Regions from separate parts of the Homo sapiens genome. Here region 2 is linked to region 1. Evidence: fine-mapped expression QTL. A gene starts in region 1. The other region holds a variant in brackets. All regions are shown on one strand. Distances are between the middles of the regions.

Region 1 (10,588 bases):
GCAAAAGTCCGTCTTAAAAAAAAAAAGTAAAAATCAACCTGACATAATAAAAATAAGTCTTGGAATTATTTACAAACTTTAATAATCTACCACCTCCTTATAATGTGGTACTGCTGATTTTTATTTTATTTTATTTAGTTTTTTTTTTTTTGAGAGAGAGAGTTTCACTTTTTTCGCCGAGGCTGGAGTTCAGTGGCGCAACCTCAGCTCACTGCAACCTCCGCCTCCTGGGTTCAAGCAGTTCTCCTGCCTCAGCCTTCCGAATAGCTGGGATTACAGGTGTGTGCCACCATGCCCAGCTAATTTTGTATTTTTAGAAGAGACAGGGTTTTACTACGCTGGCCAGGCTGGTCTCAAACTCCCTTGACCTCAGGTGATCCTCCTACCTCGGCCTCCCAAAGTGCTGTGATTACAGGCGTGAGCCACCATGCCCAGCCGGCACCACTGATTTTTAAAAGTCTATCAAGAGCATGAAAAATAAATTCAACATAACACCAACATCACGATCTATGTTACAGCACAAATTCCTTATGTATTACGAATCATATTCCTCAAAAACATACTGTGAAAAAAGTAACATAGCATATATTAGACAGTAATGGGAATGTATTTGTTTACATAAATTCTTAAAGGTAGTACATGGGAAAACTGCTAAAACATACAACACTTCAACTTTAAAACAACACCTAAAAAGTATTACTACATAATCTAACTTTCAATCACCTCAATAAACTGTCACTTAATAAAATTTAAAGATTTGTTGTCGTTAATACAACAGACAATTCAAACTTAAAAGCTTGCTCCCAAGTACAAATATGTTTGGTAAGATCCAATAAATGGCATAAAACCTTCTGTAGCTCAATGATCATCGTAATACAGAAATTACACCAGGCACGGTGACTCTCGCCTGTAATCCCAGCACTTTGGGAGGCTAAGGCGGGAGAGTCACCTGAGCCCAGAAGTTCGACACCAGCCTGGGCAACACGGCAAAACCTCATCTCTACAAAAACTACAAAAATTAGCCAGGTGTGCCTGTAGTCCCAGCTACTCAGGAGGCTGAGGTGGGAGGATTATTTGAGCCCAGGAGGCAGCAGTTACAGATCGTGCCAGCCAGGGTGAAATAGTGAGACTCTATATCAAAAAGAAAAATAAAAAAGAACGAAAGAAATTGGGAACACACAGAAAAAGAAACAAAATTTAGGCCTAATACACTCAACATTAAATAGATTCTGAATTGCAATTTTTGCTAAAGCAAAATACAAATTACAAGAAGCTTCTCATCTTTTATCACATAAGAAATAAAGTTGTAAGAAATAAGCTAAGTTTTTAGTACTAATAATTACTAGCAAATTCTCTGAGATTTGCTATACTTATAATAACAGGAAGTACTTGTATGAAGTTAGAAATTTATTTTAGTAACTTTTTCCTTTTAACGTTAAAAGCACCTTTTTAAAAAATGCAGTAGAATGTAATGCTGAGCACTTAAAATTAGTATTTCTAAAAAGATACCAAAAAATTTGCATTTGGCTAGTATTACCAAGAAACTTTTAAGGCTAAAGTTTCCAACATACTTTCATTTTTTTAAACAGACTACTTAAAAAAAAAAAGGAAACGAAAGGAAGAAAAAAAACATTTTAATCTCAGACTTTCAACTTAACTACATTTCTTTTAACCAAACATTTATAGAGCACCTAAGAAGTGACAAGCACTACAACACTGGGAAATGTGACACATTACATTTACTCCAAACTAAACCTTTTATTTATTCGGCTTCTGAACTTATTATTTCTTACTCAAACCAAAACTTTTCTTAAGAAATTCTCACCCAACATCAAGGTACATATACGAGTTACCTAATAAATGCACTTTCACCACTGTTTTACACAGGTGATGAGAGTTATAGCTAGGATTTGTGACTAACAAAAGGGATTCATTCCTGAAACATGTCTATGCTTCATGAAATGAGATAGGAATAAACTGTTTCAGGTAGTTTACAGCATCCCAAACTCAAAGAGAAAACCTTAAAAAAATTAGACTAAACTTAATTACTCTGTATAGTAGACCAAGATTTAAGTAGCCACAGCTTTTACCTTCTACAACCACAAGTATTACAAATTTTAATTTGGATGCAAAATTGTCAAAGCAGTCTTGATTCTGAGGACAAGTGAAATATTTTTTTAAATAGTTCAAAGGAACTGTCAAAAGTAGACAACGTTGATATTCTAACATGCTATCTGTTGCATTTCTACACTTGTGAACACTCTACCCTTTTCAAGCACTTCTGAATTTGTAATGGATGAAAAAATACAAGCTAGTGTCTAAGTTCCACCAGTTGAATCCAGACTTTTCAAAAATCTAAGGTTTTATTCTAGCATGTGTTTAAAAAAAAAAAAGACAGCATTCATATACATATTCTCTCAAGTAACAAAAATACCTGTATTTTTATCGTTATCATTTCTTCCAACAATTAAGCAAATTTTTTGACCCTATTCTCCACTCAGTTAACATATTGACATCTAAGAGGAACCTGGCCATCAGTTTTCCACACATCATAATGCAACAGAGCCTCTGACTTATTTACAGACCAACCAGATCAATAAAGAAAAATAAACCATATAACCCCAAGTCACTGGAAATACAAGAAACAACTGGTATCTCTGAATTGTGTAAAAAATCACAAAAATTCTCTTTTTAAATCTTTCAATTAAATTATTTTTGTGACGAGTCAAAGAGTTTTCTGCTAAAATTTTACAGTACTGTTCACACAATAAATAAGATTCTCTTTCATCAGTGTAACTGATAGAACCACAATACAGTTCAGTTTCTAGGGTCAGATTACCTGACTTGCTTTTTATTTTACCTTTTAAAACACTTTAATTCATGCCGTTATTCCTCTCATTCCCTACAAAAAGAGATGTTCAATATGGGAGAATCATCTTCAGTTGAGACATCCTATAACTGCCTCCAACTCCACAGCAAAGCCCGCCAGCTGACCCCGGTCTCTCTGGGGAAGGGCTCGGTCACCAAGTCACCAAACACACCTTCCTCTGCAAAACTCGGAAGCCCCACACGACGACCTCGTCGAAACCTCCTACTTCCTGAATTCGATAACCCCAGAGATTCGTTTTCCGCAGGCAATCTTACCTTCATGATGACTCTGGGACCAAGGTATCCTCTAAAACACCAGGTTCAGCTGCACCTGGAGGGGAAACAAAAGACACCCAGTCAACACCACAGGAGCCCCTCTGCACTGGCGGAGGCGGAGGGAAAGAAGCGAGCGACGTCCGAACCCCGAAGAAAGAGCCGCAACCAGGCGCCAGCCCCCGAACCATCACACGCCGACTCGGGGCTCCCTCCGGCCCCGCCATCCCCGCAAACCCAACCACCTACACAGCTCGGCAGCTTCCCGTCCCCATTGTCGAGACCCGACGGAGTTTCCCGTCTACGACAATGACGCCATTTCTGTCAGAGAAGAAACTCACAACAAGCCCGGCGTCCGGCGCAGGGCCGGCCGCTCTCCCCTAGGGCCTCGGCGCCCGGCCGAGCGAATCCGCGCCCCCACGCGCCGCGTCCGAGCGAGAGGCCGGCCGGGGGCCACCGAGGGGCCAGGAGGGCCTGTGGGCCGCGGGCAGGACCGGCCCGCCACAGAGCCCCTGCCCACGTCCCGTTCCGGGCTCAGACCCGACAAGTGGGAGCGAGATCAACATCTGGCCCCGCCGCGGGGACAACGTGAGGGCCGAGGGCCCCGGAGGCGGAACGGCCCCCACCCTGCCCGGGCCCCCGACCGCGGCCGCTAAACCGCTGAGTGTGCGGCCGCCCAGCCAGGGGGCGGCTCGGACACAGCGGCTGCGGGGGGTGGGGGTTCCCGGGAGGCCGAGGCCCCGAATTCGGGCGCCGCAGGGACCACCACCGCGATCTTCCTCTGCTCCTTGGCCGGGCCCAGCGACTCCCAAAAGAACCCCCTTAGGAGACCACGAAAGCCCCAGAAAATATCCCTACCTTCCTCGGAGGCGAGATCTGACCCTGGCACGTCCAGAGTCCCCTCTCTCCTTCTCCCCCCCAAAACCAGCAGGCCCGGGGGAGAGATGGGGAAGAAGGGCGGCGGGTCCAGCGGCTGCTGAGGCAGAGGCTCCGGCTCCTCCTCCTCCCGCGGCGGCGACTGGTACCTTTGTTTGGCGGCCGCTCGGGCTCCCTGGTTGGGGGGAGGGGGACGACGAAAAATCCCCCCCGGACTGGAGGTCCGGGCCCCCAATCGCGCTGCCCTCCAGAGGACGGCGGCGATGGACCCTCTGCAGCTCCCTCCGGGCAAAGGTCCAGGCGGTGGCCGTGGCGGCGGCAAGATGAAGCTCAAGAGTCTCCCTCCGCTTCGGCGACCGAGCTCCTCACTCCGGACTCGACTGACGGGCAAACATCGCTTCCCCCCCACCGACTCTAGGTTCCCCCCCTTTCTCCCCTCCCCTAGATTTTTTTTCCCCCCCTCCCCTACCTCTTTCCCGGATGGCCTCTTAGACGACCTTGGATTGGTTAAAGTTCTTTAGAACCCGCCTATACACTGTTCCTATTGGTCCCTGGATACAAACAACGACGCCATTTTCCCACCAGTTCTATGGAAACAGAAAGTTACGCCTCAAGGCTTTCTGGGAAATAAAGTCCATACTCTGGGGCCAACGCGCAAATCCTCGTCCGCGAGAACTGCAAGGCCCGCAATGCCCTGCGCCTGCGTGGACCGGTGCGGGGGCGGGGGGGAGGTGAAAGGGGCGGGGCAACAAAGCAGTAGGGAGGCGGCAACGACGCCTGCGCAGTGTGACCGGGATGGCGCATTTTCTTGCACCAACTAATGCGGTGTCGCTGGCGGCTGAGGAGGGCGGAGAGTTCTGTGGTGAAATAGTGGGAAGGATTCATGTAGGCATCGGGAAGAGCCTAAGTCCACATTATAAAATAGGAAGTTGATGCGGGGTACAGTTACTCCCGGACCGGCGGCGTGAAAGTCGTGATATCATCGTTGAACTGTGAGCGGCAGTGGCGGCGGCTGGGGGGAACCCGGATGGGAAGAAGGGCGGGGGAGGCTGGGAGGCGGGGCAGAGGAAAGAAAGAAAGGAGAGTGAGGACCCGGATGCTGAACCGGATTGTGTATGAATTTTCCATCCCCTAGCTTTAAGCGAGGAGGGAGAGGAAGGGTTGGCCAAGTGGGGCGGAAGGGAGCATCTGAGCGAGGAGGAAGCAGAAACCTCACCGTTTCTTCCCCTCCGGACTCTGTGCTAGCACTGTATACGTTTGCAGTTCTCTGCCCAGCCGCTGTGGAAAATCGGCCTCGAAGTGATTGAAATTCCCTGTTTATATCAGGCGGCTTCTTTCAGATCCATCGTCTTTCTCCCGGAGTATGAATGGAAGGATTCAGTATGCGCTTCACATTTGTATGTCTCTGGCCATTCTCAAACCAGGCCCTTCCCTTTGAAAAGTCTTTTGCATGGGATGTTCACTTCTTAGACGCAAGGTTGTGTGCCCTGGTTTCATCGTCTAACGCGTTAGAAGGCGCTTTCATTTCTTCATGGGTGTTGAGCGCCGACCACTGGGGTGGCCTCTGCCTTCGTAGACCTGCGCCTGGTGAGACGGACAGATGCTGAACAAAACGATGTGAAATTACCGCAGTGGCAGTGCCCCAGAGGAGAGTTCCACGGTGATAGGAGAATGAGGGAATTTGGCTTCTTTAGGGAGGGAAAGGAAGGGTTTCTGAGCAAGTGAGGATCGAGCTGAGAGCTGAAGGGCTAGCAGGAGTTAACTAAGGAAAGAGAAAAGGAAAAGACATTCCAGACAAAAAGACTAACTTGTCAGAAAGCCCTGTGGCGGAAGGGAGCTTTTCCAATATGAAGAACTGAGCCTGGAGAGATGGGATGAGGGGGAGTGTCGAACCTTTTAGGCTTTGTAAAGGAGTTTTGGTTTTCTCCTAATAGCAATGGGATATCTTCCAAGGAATCTCAATCAAAAGGGAGAGATGGCTCCGATTGGAATGTCATCCCTGGCTGAAGAGTAGAGGAAGCGAAAAAAAGAAGAGTTAAAGAGGCAAATGCAGGGAACCCGACGAGGAGGCTATTGCCGTAGTAGTTCACATGGTGAAAAGAATGGAGCGTTTGTATTAATGATTATGGATTCACTCTTTGAACAAATTTCTGGCAGCTTTTTAGTTTTGAAAGTGAGAAGTTTCAGACTCTCACTGAGGTATTCTGTAGTTTTTTCACTCTAAAAGGAAACTAGTAGAGTTCATGTAACACACACTAATGCCTCTTTACATTTAACTTTAGTATGTGATAGCTGAAATTTCCAGCTGTGATAAATTGGGAAATCCTTTGATTTAAAAGAAAAACAAAGGCGGGTGAGGGTGAGAGTATATGCCACGGTGTGTAGAATCCTTTAGACTCTTAAGAAGACACAAGGCGGCTGGGCGTGGTGGCTCACGCTTGTAATCCCAGCACTTTGGGAGGCCGAGGCGGGCGGATCACGAGGTCAGGAGATCGAGACCATCCTGGCTAACACGGTGAAAGCCCGTCTCTACTAAAAATACAAAAAAATTAGCCGGGCAAGGTGGCGGGCGCCTGTAGTCCCAGCTACTCGGGAGGCTGAGGCAGGAGAATGGCGTGAACCCGGGAGGCGGAGTTTGCAGTGAGACGAGATCACGCCACTGCACTCCAGCCTGGGCGACAGAGTGAGACGCTGTTTCAGAAGAAAGACACAAGGCAAGTTGGTTGTCGATACCTGGAAAAATTGAAGTTCTTATGTTTTCATACCACTGAAAATGCTTGTATGTAAATATCCTCTGGGACAGGAAATTGACTTAAGTGAGTATTCTTAAACATCTCTAAGTGAGGAAAGGAAATATTTTTTAAAGCATAATTAGTGTTTTAAGTTGAAAAATAACATCAACCACAAAGCTCTACGAATTGAAACAAAGATTAGCTCTGATTTCTGTGCAACAGGGTACACCTGTTACAGGTCCTGACACAAAAGGGAATTCTGAAAGTGCATCTCATTGATTTTTAAGTTCGGTCAAATGTGTTTTGGAGGCTGTGAGAAAATATACAAACGTGATTCTTGCTCCCAACTTGTAGTTGAGAAAAGATAGATACTAACATTTAAATAGAGAAGTATATGAGATCCTTTTTTAATTCTACTTTTAATGATGTTCGATAATAATCTTTTAGCTAAGCCATTATTCTTCCTGTTTTGCATCTTCTTTTCTTACTTCAATCCCTGATAATAAGGTCACGTGTCAGAGATCAAATAGTATAGGTAATAGGTTACCTAAATAGGTATTTGCATAATAGGTTACCTAACTAAATAGGTTTTTGCCTAATAGGTATGTTGATTATTTCGCTTACTTGATTCTTTATGAGCCTTTTTTTCCTTGCGACGTCTTTGGTATTAATTGTTAGTCAAGATGGATGTAGAAATTTTCCATATGGGATGTTTCTCTTTGAATTCATGTTGTTAAAATGATTTCTTTTGGTGGAGTGCTGATCTTTTTTATGATTGTTTCATATAGATAAGAACAGACTACAAAAAAATATGCCTTTCAATCCTGAAGAGTAACCTGAACTATACACTAGTTTTGTGCTTTAATTTTCATTTGTAATCTGCCTTCAATAAAGAGTTAAGCTAGTGGAATTTATGTCTTAGCTTGTTATAACACAAACACGAATATTTGTCTGCTTGGCATTAAAGGGTAAAGATATTCCATAGCTGGGAATCTTAATCTGAGGTACGTGTAAACATTCAGGGACTATATGATCTCTGAGAATTTGTATGTTGTAAGTCTTTGTGGCAGTGTATACATTTGTGTTGCAACTTATTAACACATACACCGGGCTTTTTTTTTTTTTTTTAGAAGATTCATAGCTTTCATCATATTCTCAAAAGGTTTCTGTGACCCATGAGATGGTTTACAGTATGGGGAAGCATCAAAGCACTTGCACAGTTGATGGTTATATGTGTGTGTTATTATTTCAGCCACCCATTATCATGTGCTTACCAACTGCCTAACAGTGCATACATATGTAGAAGTTTTATTCTTTTCTCCTGTTGCCATATTATACGTCTCATTTCACAGCAGAAAAACAACTGCATGACAGAGACAATGTGGTTCAAACCATTTTACCCTTGTATTCATTGACTGCTACAAAACAGGAACATTAAATACCTGATTGTCACCAAATTGGGTAGTCTCAGCACTTCTACACTCGTAATTGTGCTGGAAAAGTGGAATGCTAGCACTAATAATTAGATTTTGGTTTGGAGGGTTTTTTATTTGTTTATTCTTACTTGTATAAATTTATGGGGTGCAAGTGTAGTTTTATCACATGCATAGATTGCATTGTAGTGAAGTCAGGACTTTTAGGGGGTCCATCACCCATGTAATCACGTTGTACCCATTAAGTAATCTTTCATCATCCACCTCCTTCCCACCTTCTCACCCTTTGGAATCTCCATTGTCTATCATTCCACACTCCATGTCCATGTATACACATTATCTAGCTCCCATTTATAATTGAGAAGATGTACTATTTGTCTTTTATGTCTGACTTGTTACACTTAAGGTAAGGGCTATCCATCCATTTTGCTGCAAATGACATGATTTCATTTTGTTTTAATGGCTGAGTAATCATTCGTTGTATATATACCACATTTTCTTTATTCAGTCATCTGCTGATGGACACTTAGGTTGATTCCATATCTTTACTATTGTGAATAGTGCTGTAATAAACACATAGTGCAAGATTTTGGAAATTTTACTTTTGTGGCACGTTGTTGGTATTTACTCAGGATCTTTGGATTTGCTTGGCTGCATGTATATGAATCAGTGTGTTTATTTACTGAAATATGTGCAAAAGTCTTGTCTTTGGTGGATTAATTTATAATATAAATCCACAAAAGTCAGATTCTGCTCCTAAGTATATTTTACATTTTTAAATTTAATGCCAGCAAGAAGTTACAGTACTAGAATTGCCTTACCCCTGAGAGTATCAATGATCAGATCATAGTATCAGGTGACTGGGCTATAGAAGATGACTTTTATTACTTAACATTATGAAGTTACTAGGGCTGATTTAGAAATCGAGGAACACTGGTGAAACCCCGTCTCTACTAAAATACAAAAATTAGCTGGGCGTGGTGGTGGGCACCTGTAGTCCCAGCTACTCAGAAGGCTGAGTCAGGAGAATTGCTTGAGCCCAGGAGGCAGAGGTTGCAGTGAGCCGAGATCGTGCCACTGCACTCCAGCCTGGGCGACAGAGTGAGACTCCGTCTCAAAAAAAAAAAAAAAAAAAAAAAAGGAACACATCCTCACTGTTACAATAAATAACAGTAGCCCACACCCCCTTAGTTGTGATGTGGTGTGATACCATGTAAGCAACCTATTTCCAGTTCCCCTAACATTCTCAAGCAGCTGTATCAGAATCATACAAGATGCATATTTAAATTGAAGATTTCTAAGTCTCTGGCCCAGACTTAGAAAAAAAGGATCAGGCCGGGCACAGTAGCTAACACCTGCAATTCCAACACTTTGGGAGGCTGAGGCGGGTGGATCGCCTGAGGTCAGGAGTTTTGAGACCAGCCTGGCCAACATAGTGAAACCCCATCTCTACTAAAAATTCAAAAAATTAGCTGGGCGTGGTGGCAAGAACCTGTAATCCCTGCTATTCGGGAGGCTGAGGCAGGGGAATCACTTGAACCCGGGAGGTGGAGGTTGCAGTGAGCCAAGATTGCGCCACTGCACTCCAGCCTGGGCAACGAGCAAAACTCCGTCTCAAAAAAAAAAAACAAAAGGACCTTTGAGCAATCAGAATAACACAAAGTACATGAACTGAACTTCATTTTCTTCATTCAAAAGAAAGTGGCCCTCACTCAAGCAAATATATTCTTGTGCTTTATCTTCTGGCATACTGAGATAACTTTCTAAAGTGGTTTCCAATTCCAAAATCCAATGATGTGCAACTCATTGAACAGCCCTAACCACAAACTGCCATTAGATGCCATATTACATTTAGCCTTTTTGTTGTAGAAAAGTTGGTTAGAAGTGGGCTCAGGATTCTAAAGACTAAATCATAGTCCCAAGAAGCAAAAGAAAGAGGATAAAAGTAATAAACTTCCCAAAATGTGCCAAAGATGCTAGAGCAGTTAGATTCCTAATATGAGGACAAGTAATAATAGAAACAGATACAAAGAAATAAAGTAGAGATTCAACAGTACAGGGAGACCCTAGGAAGACCATGAGTGTTATTCTAGGAAATACTGAAATAAGACAGATTTCAGTATAAAGGGGAATATGTTTAATAAATATATGCATTTGAGTTAATGCGTATTTTAAATCAGAAATCTCTGAAATGGATTGATTGTAGAGAAACTACTAGGGGGACGAGGAGAATCCCTTTAAATTTTAAATACATAAAACATACTCATCTTAGTGCTCATTTAAAAAAGGATATGTTTACTAATTAGTGTAATCAGTTAAATACAGAGGTATCTTTCCAATTCTTTGGATGTGTTTTGACATTTGCCGTCAACAAATTAAGCCTTTTGTGGTTGATTAAAATAGGAA
Region 2 (10,588 bases), 530 kb before region 1:
TGGGAGAGCCAAAAGTTATACATGAATTTTTTACTGCTCCGACCCTCATTGTTCAAGGGTCAACTATCCAAGATCATTCCAAGTAGCATTATTTGTCATGGGGCAAAATTAAAATCTACTCAAATAACCAGCAAAATGAAAAATGTATAAATAAATTGTGATACATTCATACTATGAACATCTTTATAGTGTTAAAAATGACCAAACTACTTGTACATGAATGACATTAGATCAACATTACAGATGTCATACTGAGTGGAGAAAAAAGTCAGACAAAAAGAACATATAATGTAGAATTCTGTTTTTATAAAATTCACAAACTAGCCATCTAATACTCGGTGACAAAAATGGTCACCATTGGGGAAGAGGAGGTTATTGGAGAGGGTCTGGGATTTTTCTGAGGCTGGTAATAGTCTAGCTCTTGATTTGGGTGGATGGTTACACAGGTATGTTCACTTTTATGATAACCCACTTAGTTGTACACTATGCCTGTCTTTATGTACATAATACTTCAATTTTTTAAAGTTTATTTACTAGCTAGCTGTGTGATAGTGGCAAGGTACTTAACCAGCAGAAGTCTCTGACCTCATCCATAAAACTGATATAAACATGACTGCTTCAAAGGATTGCTCTGAAATATAAATGAAATAATGTAGGTGAAAAGCTTAGCACAGGTCCTGGCTGATAAACAATAGTACTTTATAATCACCATTGAGGAGTTTATTTTATTGTTTATTTCCGGGATTATCAGGGTTTGGCCACTTGCAGACAGCAGCCAGGTCTCTTCCTGGCACACCTGTCAGCAGCAAACCTGAGATTTTTCAAGGCCTCCTGGGATACCAGCCTCAGGCTGTGTTTAGGGCTTGGTGTGGTGGCTCACGCCTTTAATACTAGCACTTTGGGAGACCGAGGTGGGCAGATCACTTGAGGTCAGGAGTTTGAGACCAGCCTGGCCAACATGGTGAAACCCCGTCTCTACTAAAAATACAAAAATTAGCCAGAAATCTCTTGAACCCAGGAGGCAGAGGTTGCAGTGAGTGGAGATGGTACCACTGCACTCCAGCTTGGACAACAGAGCAAGACTCCATCTCAAGAAAAAAAGAAAAAGAAAAAAACCGTGTTTAGAGGCCCCCGGTCCTCACACTTGCAGAGGCTCCCCTCCTAATGCCAAGAGTGTTGGGGGATCGAACTGCTTGGAGATGGAGATTGAGCTTCTGTTGTCCAGACAAGTTCATGCCTCTGTGACCCCCCCCTTCCCAGAGGCAGGCCTTTAGGATGCTGAGATTGAGCTTCTGTTGTCCAGACAAGCTCATGCCTCTAGACCCTGCTTCCCAGAGGCAGGCCTTTAGGGTGCCCCAAGGCAGGAAAATGCAATCATGTGATCCAGAGGAAGTCCCATAGAGCTGAGGCATCCCTGAGAGAGGGAGGGAGTTCAGGCACCCGCCCCTGCAGCCCCTCAGCCTCAGAGAAGGGAGAAGGGAGAGTGTCCAAGGCAAACCTGACCTGAGGCTTTGGGTGGCAGGGGAGTGCATAATGAATGCCTCGCTGGAGCACCTCAGTGATAATGTGGGTATTGTGGGGGCATCCCGAGTGGCACACAGACTCCATTCATCCTGTGCACAAACAGGACTCTGCAGACCCAGCTGCTTCTCTGGAAGCCATGGGAGGTTATTAAATATGAGCTACAGCTGCTTTTTTGCCAATTCACATTTTGTAAAGGCTCATGTTGTTTTTGCTCTTGCCTTTTTGACTTAGAGCCCCTGTCTTGGACTTGGCTTTGTCCAGGTATTTCTTCATTTTGAGAGACAGCATCTTCAAATGCAGACATTGCCCAAATCTTTCCTGATTATAAAAATCACCTGGGTTTCTGTTAAAAATACAGATTTCTGGGCCTCAACCCAGACACGCTAAATGCAATGTCTAAGACTGGGGCTCTAGGAACTTATAGTTTTAAAAAGAGTACCAGGTGATTCTTATAATTATTCAAATTGGGAAACCATCCTTCAACCTGGTTCCTTCAAATTCCAGGGAATCTCCTCTGGTAACTGTTCCCATTTGGGCTCCCTTTACTTTCTTCCATTTTTTTTTTTTTAACTCAAATTTCTCTTTTTCTATGCAATAAGCTCTTCATAGTAGTTCCACGTTCTATCCACCCCAAGTTTCTTACCCTTTCCTTTTGTTCAGGCTCAACACCTCAAACTCTAAAGCTGTGGTACCCTCTCTGCAATTCCCATGATGCTGAGATAATGCCCCAAGCCATGGCTTCTCACTCCTATGGGGATTGGGGGCAGGAGGAAATCTGGCTAAATGACATATTATTTAACTCAAATTAAGGTGGATTTCTTTTGAAAACTATCCAATGATTGATAACACCCAGAGGTAACTCAAAGCCGTTCTGCAAAATCACTACAAACTTCCAAAACAGTATTTTGAGAGTTACAAGCACTACCAATAACCTTGCCTTAAAACACCACAATATGCCATTTAAGAGTATTTTTTCTGGTCAGTATTTCTCCATAATCCTTTATCCAGGGGCCACTGCTCAGAATTTGGAGTTAGAACATCTGAGTCTTGTCTGAGTTCTGATTTCAATGTGTGGTAGGAGATATCTCCATCTAATTGGGTTTCTTCATATTTCGTATACACTGATGATAATTTCATATACACTGATGATAATGGCTTACCTGTTTTCCAGAGTTCTTGATCATGTCGTGGGGCTGTAGAAAGAGCCCAGAGCGTGGATGACAGGGGTTTCATTGAATGAATGAATGAGTGACTGAATGAATGAGGTAATGGGTGCCACATCAAGAAAGGCAGTTTTACTAAGAATAATTAGGAACAAATGTTGGATCTTTTTTAAAAAAATAAATCCCATAAGGTGTGAGGCTGAGATCCTGTGAAGTGGTGCCGAATTTGGAGGCAGAGTCCTGCCAGGAGAATGTTCTTCTCTGCTGGTGTCTGTGCTGACCCTCTGCTCAATCTGCTAGTTGCCCAAAAAGACACGTTGGTGATCTTCACTTGAGTTTCTGCTTCTTTTGTCTTTCAGAGTATTGTTGGATCAGGGCTGCCAGGAAGCAGAATTTGATGACAGCTTTTGGGTTTGACTTGCCAGTGAGCACGTTTGGCTGGGTGTAGGGCTTCCGTGGTGTAGCTGGCCCATGGCCTTGAATTTCTTCCAGTGGGCCCACTGCATTTCCCAAATGGACTCTTGCAAAGGGCATCTTACAAGTCAGAGAGTGTGTGTAAGTGTACGTGCATGCACATGTAGAGAACAGACCTCCTCTTGGATGTCCGGCCTTTAAAACGACATCAAATCATCCTCGTCACCATCTGCAAATATGCCTTGAGCACTCAGTATATGCAAAGCACCGTTCTAGATATTATGAGGAATGCAACAAAATAGAGTTCCTTCCATGGCTTTCAGAAATTTATAGACTCGGTTAGGCAGATAAAATCAATAATATCCCATTTATATCAGTCTGGTTTCTTGGTTGCATGCCTTAGAAATCAACTCTGGTTAAGCTGTATTCCAGGTGGGAGGACCTGATAAGCCCTCTTCCAGGTGGCACCAGATGTATGTATCCAGAATGGAGCTTGAGGAAGTGAATCATGCCTGGAAAAGGGTGTGTCTAAGGACCCAAGAGGGAAAGTGTGCACTCGCAGAATATGACTACAAAAAAATATGTAGAACAAATGCTCATCTTTGAAGAAGTGTGAAGGAGAGTGTTTTGACTAGTTGAAACTTATGGAGCTGAAAGAGCAATTTTAAGAGGATGCGAAGGAACTGTTCACGTATGACCCCCTCACTGCCCAGAAATCACAGATGCAAGCCCCCACTGGACACAGAGGGCAGGGTGGGGCCCAATGAGCAGGATGGCACTGATGATGATGGTTGAGAGCCTGGCCTCTGAGAGCAGAAATGAGTGTGCCTGCAAAAGAACTCCTTGCCCTTCAGCAAGAAAGGCACATGGTGCCAGCAGAAAAAGAGGCAGGACCCAAAACGCTTACTTACCTCAATTCGTTGTTCTGTAAAATGAAGATTCTGGACCCTTCCCTGCCAAAAGCAAATGGATGTTGATAATAAACCAAGATAAGATTAGTATAGAGAAAAGGGTGCAGTATATGAGAAGACATGGGATCTGGTGCTACAACCATGATTTACTAGCTATGCGACCTTGGGCAAGGCATTTAACTTTTCCAAGTCTATTTGCTCTTCAATAAAATGAAGTTGGTAATTCTGGGTAGGTAGAGAACAATTGAGATACAATGCATGTGAAACTCTTTGACAAATTATATAAAGTGCACTGCCAGGGTAAGGAACTATGCTTATTCTCCTTTAAAAAATGCATGTGGATGTTGTTATCAGTAAACGACCATGAAGAGTTTTAAGGATGTTCGGCCGGGCGCGGTGGCCCACGCCTGTAATCCCAGCACTTTGGGAGGCCAAGGCCGGTGGATCATGAGGTCAGGAGATCAAGACCATCCTGGCTAACACGGTGAAACCCAGTCTCTACTAAAAACACAAAAAAGAATTAGCTGGCCATGGTGGCGGGCGCCTGTAGTCCCAGCTACTCGGGAGGCTGAGGTGGCAGAATGGTGTGAACCTGGAAGGAGGAGCTTGCAGTGAGCCGAGATCGCGTCACTGCACTCCAGCCTGGGCGACAGAGTGAGACTCATCTCAAAACAAACAAACAAACAAACAAACAATCAGAGTTTTAAGGATGTTCATCAATAACTGATTCCTACGGTTACTTCCCCTGCCTTACACTCAGGCTGCTGGCCTACCCTGCAAAGGTTCTGCTGGGACTCTGCTTGT[C/T]TCCAGAATAAGCCAGTGGCCAGAGAATCCTTTGAGCCAACCTCTCCGTGGGCCGGCATGGAGGTGATGAATCTTTTGTATTGACCCAGGAGAAAGCCCCAGCAACAAAGACCAATTTATTTTCTTAGTAAATCACAAAATGTTCCTGCAGCAAATTCCTGGGACTATGCAAAGCATCACAGTCCCTAGGAGGAAAAAGGGATGGGCTGCCTGGACGGGAGCTGAAATATGTCCATCTGGCCCAGGGAATGTCAGAGTGCACCCCAGCTGACCACATGAAACAGTCTCTATGAAATGCAGATGTTTGGTAGGGTTGGGTGTTGCTTCCCCCGCAATTTAAAAGCCTTTCATGCCTGCTGCTTACTTATAGACTTCTTCCTCCCCACACTGTTTGGCTCAGTGGGTTCGAGAGGGTGTTTTGGGGTGTTTGGATAACAGTGCATTGTGGTGGTGGGATTTATTAACAACAGCCATTCTTCCCCACTCCTGCAAGTTGCTGCCTCATAGTCCATATTTAATGTTTAAATTAAGGTGAATTAAAATTAATTTTGTTGGAGGAATTCTGCAGCTCCCGCTTGAGATAAGTGGAGACACCCTGGGGTGATATAAAATTGAGGTTAGGAATTGCTGCATTGGAGTGCTGTGCTAATGAGGTGAAGGTCAGGGGTTCAATTCCCTTGTGAAGGGAGCAGTTAATTTCACTCTCCCTCACGGCCTCAGATTCCACCCTTAACCCTGGCCATCTGCCTCCAAGAGGAGCCACTGGTCACCAGCAGGACAAAGTGAGATAGAGGACCAGATCTATACAAATCCATCAAACCCGTTAGAATGACAACCCAAAGCATGACCCATGAGTAATGTGCCAGGATTTTTAATTTTGCAAATGACAGCACTATTATATTATTACTTTATATTAGAGTAAACATGTACAAATATGGACAATACCAATGAATCAGATGTCATGGGTTCCAAATTCTCTAAGGCATTACTCTTACTTCCCAAGTGTTTAGCTAACTTGTTAGAGAGACAGCTTAATAAATGTATTGTGTATATCATGGTCACAGTCAATTCTTCTTGAGCCTTAAGAGGGAGAGAAGTGGTGTGGATCTCTCCAAACAAAAGATAGTACCAATATCACTCATATTTAGTTTGGAAAAGATGATACAATTTAGGGACAGCAGATTGCCCTCCTTAATTATGTTTTTCTTTAGCTAATAGTAATATTAGTTTGCATTCCCCTGAACATGTTGACGGATGGCAGAAAAGAGAGCCCAAATGCTCAAAAAGGGAGGAAGTTCAGGATTAAGCATTTGTCAGGGATAATCCACAGAATAGAGATAATCCAACTTCATTAATCAAAAGCTATCTCTATCCTACTAATTATCAACTTACCATTGTCCTTGTTAGAAAATAGAATTTTAGGCCGTTGAATTTTCTCTAATTCACTCCCCTCTCTTGTGTATCTAGGTTCTACTCCAGCCCAAAGGCCAACCTAAGTGACACCTTCTAGCCAGGGCAACACTGGCCTCCGCTGCCTGGGGCCTTCTGCAGCACTTATGGTATATGCTAAATTGTGGTTTAGAAAGTGTGTTTCCTTAGTGCTTGAGGGCAAGGCTCAAATTTTTAGGTTCCTATATGTCTCACAGAGCCTAGCACAACACTGAACATCCAATAGGTGCTTAATAATAGCATGCTCATTAACATTGACAGACTAATTACAGTAAGGAATAATGAAGAATTACCACCCTCTTGCCCCATTTGACAAAATTCAACACCCATTCATTAGAAAACCTCTCAGAAAAATAGGAATAGAGGGGGACTTCCTCAACTTACTAAAAAGCATCTATAAAACCCTATAGCTAACATTATACTTGATGATGAAAGGCTGAATGCTTTCCACGTAAGATCAAGGAGAGGCAAGAATGACCACTCTACCACTCCTATTCAACTTCCTACTGGAAGTTCTGCCAGTGCAATAAAATAAGAAAATAAAATAAAAGCAGATAGTTTGGAAAGGAAGAAATAAAACCATCCCTATGATTGTGAACATAGACAATCCCAAAGAATCTATAAAACAAACCAAAAAAAAAAACCCTAGAACTAATGAGTTCAGCAATGTTACAGAATAAGAGATAAACACATGAACTCAATTCTATTTCTGTATACTGCAATGAACAAGTGGACACCAAAATTACAAATGCAATGCCATTTGCAGTCACTCAAGAGAAATGAAATACGTAGGTGTAAATCTAACAAAATATGTGCAGTACTTGTGTGCTTAAAATTCCTACAAAAGAAACCAAATAAGAGCTAAAATACATGAAGAAGCATTACAAATTCATGAATCAGAAGACTCAACAGTAAAGATGTCAATTCTCCCCATCTTGATATATGGGTCAATATAACTGCAAACAAAATCCCAGCAATATTATTGCATAGATCTAGACAAGATTATCCTAAATGTATATAAAATGGCAGAGAAACTAGAATAGCTAAAACAATTTTGAAAAAGAAAAATGAAATGGGATAGATTAGTCTACCTAATGTCAAGATTTACTGTATAGCTACAGTGATCAAGGCTACATGCTATTAGTGAAGGGATAGATACACAGACCAGTGGAAGTTAATAGAAATAGGCCCACGCAAAATTTCCAACTGACTTTAGATAAGGGTACAAAGGCAATTCAATGGAGGAAAGATACCCTTTTCAACAAATGGTATGGAAGCAATCGATATTCATAAGCAAAAAATAAATAAATAAACCTCAATCTAGTCTCACGCTTCATGCAGAAATTAACTCCAAATTGATCATGGATTTATATGTAAAACATAAAACGATAAAACTTATAGAGAAAAAAAGAGAAAATATTTGAAAGCTAGGGCCAGGCAAGGAATTCTTAGACTTGATGCCAAAAGCATGAGCCATAAGAGGAAAAATGGTTAAATTAGACTTCATCAAAGTTAAACATTTGCTCTATGAAAGACCCTGTTAAGAGGATGAAAAGTCAAGCTACAGACTGGGAGAAAATATTTGCAAACTGCCTATCTGACAAAGGACTAGTATGTAGAATATAGAAAGAACTCTCAAAACTCCACAGTAAAAAAAATAAAAAATAAATAAATAAGAATTTTTAAATTTGAAAAAATGAGAAAAGACATGAAGAGATATTTAACTGAAGAGGAAAATATACAGGTGGCAAATAAGCATATGAAGAGGTAATTTAAAATCATTAGCCATTAGGAAAATACAAATTACAACCACAATGAGATATCATTACATGACTATTGAATGGCTAAAAGAGTGACAACCACAAATGCTGGCAAGGATATGGAGAAACTGGATCCCTCATACATTGTTGGTGAGAATGTAAAATGGTGCAATCACTCTAGAAAACAGTCTGACAGTTTCTTATAAAACTAAACATGCAAGGCCTGTGCAACCTGGCATGCACTCCTGAGCATTCATCCCAGGAAAAAAAAAAAAAAAAAAAAACTTAGGTTCACACAAAAACCCACATGTGAATGTCTGCAGCAGCTTTGTTTGTAATCCCCCCAAAGTGGAAAAAACCAGCTGCCCTTCAGGTGGAAGGTGAGTGGTTAAACAAACTGCAGTACATCTCTATCATGCAATACTACTCAGCAACAAAAGAGAAAACTATTGACACATGCCACAACCTGGGTGAACCTCCAGACGGTTGTGCTGAGTAAGAAAAGTCAAGGTTGCATGCTGTGTAATTCCATTCATATGAAATTCTTGACATGACAAAATTATAACTTTAGTTATACAAAGAACAGTTTAGTAGTTATACAAAGAACAGTTTAGTAGTTATACAAAGAACAGTTTAGTAGTTGTCAGGAGTTAAAGATGGGGCAGAGATGGGGAGAGTAAGAGGACGCAGGTGCGGCCACAAAAGGGCAACGTGAGGGACCTTGGTGATGACGGACATGTTCTGAATCTGGACTCTATCAATGTCAGTGTCCTGTTTGTGAAATCATACAATAGTTTTGAAGGTATTACCTTTGGGAGAAACTGTATAAAAGGTACATAGATCTCCACATCATTTCTTACATTTGCATGTGAACCTACGATTTCTCTCAAAATGAAAAGTCTAACTAAATAATAATCACCCTTATCTGTCCATGCTGGAGAGAGGTGTTACGCTGCCAGAGTTTCAGATCTGCTCTGAGCACCATGATCTGGGTTTACCATCATCCTCATAATATACTCCCTCTTGTATTCCAGATAGAAACAATAAGTACCGAAGAGTCAGCAAGCTGTGCTCAGGAATTGCACCAAAATGATAATGCTCCGGGTGTTGAATTTGCCAGCACGGGGACTCTGGGTGGCAAATAGCGGCCGTGCAAGTACGGATATAGGGCAAGGAACTCAATATGGAGCCAAGTTTCAGGAGGAAGATCAGAGAATTAGATTAGGGAATAGATCTAATCTATTAGAGATTAGCAAGCAAGCAAGCAAGAGAATAATCAGGAGTCTAAAAGTATTTATTGATCAGGAATAAGGGCTGGGCACCTCACTTGGGACTCAAGGCCCTGACTTGGCCAAGCAACAAAGATAACACTTAAGGCCATGCTCATGGTAGGCAGAAGAGGCATTCCCTTATATATCTCCTAGTTCATTCAACAAATGTTTAGTGAGAAATTCTCAGAGGTCGCTCACCAAGGCAGGTGCCCAAGACACAGACCTGGTCAGCTAAAGTTCCCTGGCTTCTAGAGGAAGCAGAATAGCAAGAATGCTTGGGAACACATCAGGAGGAACATCATTTCCAGGGTTGTGTAGTCAGATAACACGTTTTATGAGGAAGTGGTGTGGAAGTGTGGGGTGCAGAGGAGGCGAGATTCATGCAGAGAGAAGGTCTCATGGCCCTGAGCTGAGAGGTTACAGGACCATTAGCACAGCTGGGGTTCTTCTGTAAAGACGGGAAAGCAGAAGTCAGGAATTGAGGGATACGGCTGGTGTTTGTGGGCTATGCTGGTTATGAGCAAAGGCTCAAGTCAGGGAAATACCACACAGCAGGCGATTGTGGACACTCTCACTCCATGGATCACAAAGAACCACAGGCCAAGATAGGCCAGAACACTGGATCATCTTTCCCTGGAGGAGTCAGAGCCCTATAATCTATGAGGCCCTCATGGGTTCTTTCATCCCCAGAGCTCCAGGTGTAGCTGATGATCCTCCTCCCTCTGCTGGAACCCTCTGACTCTCAAATAGGCTTCACACATGAAGCCGGGAGATTGTTTTATACTCTAAATAACTTTCTGTTTCTACAACAGATGGGAAGACTGTATCTTCTAGCCTAATTGGAGGCTCACAATTCCAGGGAGAATTTCGGCTGGGCAGGAGCTCTCTTCCTCTGAGATTTTATTTCCCAGGGACATTCCATACTTGGCCCATGACAGAGGCTGCAGTTGCCCAAGGGAACAATGCGTCAAGGGCCACTCATCCTTTGGAAAGCAGAAGTCCAGATACCAGAGTAAAACCATAACTCATTAACACTTCCAACAAGTATTTATTATGTGTTGAGCAATCTGTGCCAGCCCTGATGACCTAATGGTGAGCAAAACCATGTTCTGTCTTCCTGCAACCTGCAATCTGGCAAGTGGGTCAAAGAGCCTAAAGAAGGCATTAGTTAGAATACAGGTGCAGCAATTCTAACAGAACCTCAAAATACTAGGGTTCAGATAAGATGGAACTGCATTTACCTTTCACAAGGGTGGGCAGTCGAGACCCAGGTACCTTCCACCTTGTTGCTC

Alleles and levels. Alleles are on the strand shown, and positions count from the first base shown. SD is a standard deviation of normalised expression in the study named.
With allele C in place of T in region 2, the expression in hippocampus of the gene that starts at base 4,410 in region 1 is lower (large effect, 0.76 SD a copy in GTEx).

Evidence for each region. PIP is the estimated chance that this variant, and not a neighbour inherited with it, causes the effect.
Region 2: its variant is fine-mapped to the expression of ARID4B in hippocampus (GTEx, PIP above 0.99).

What each region holds. Positions count from the first base shown.
Region 1 is chr1:235,323,770-235,334,357 of GRCh38, forward strand. It overlaps ARID4B (AT-rich interaction domain 4B), which reads right to left and starts at 4,410. Exons shown (of 24, transcript NM_016374.6): 1 at 4,000-4,410; 2 at 3,145-3,199. The coding sequence starts at 3,150. GGPS1 (geranylgeranyl diphosphate synthase 1) reads left to right here and starts at 4,801. Exons shown (of 4, transcript NM_004837.4): 1 at 4,801-5,009. RefSeq lists enhancers at 3,091-3,280, 3,299-3,824, 4,561-4,620, 4,861-4,950, 5,451-5,600 and silencers at 3,531-3,620, 3,631-3,860, 4,031-4,080.
Region 2 is chr1:234,791,048-234,801,635 of GRCh38, forward strand. LOC124904557 (a long non-coding RNA gene) reads right to left here and starts at 3,353. Exons shown (of 3, transcript XR_007066954.1): 1 at 2,685-3,353. The variant C/T (reference allele first, on the strand shown) is at 4,817.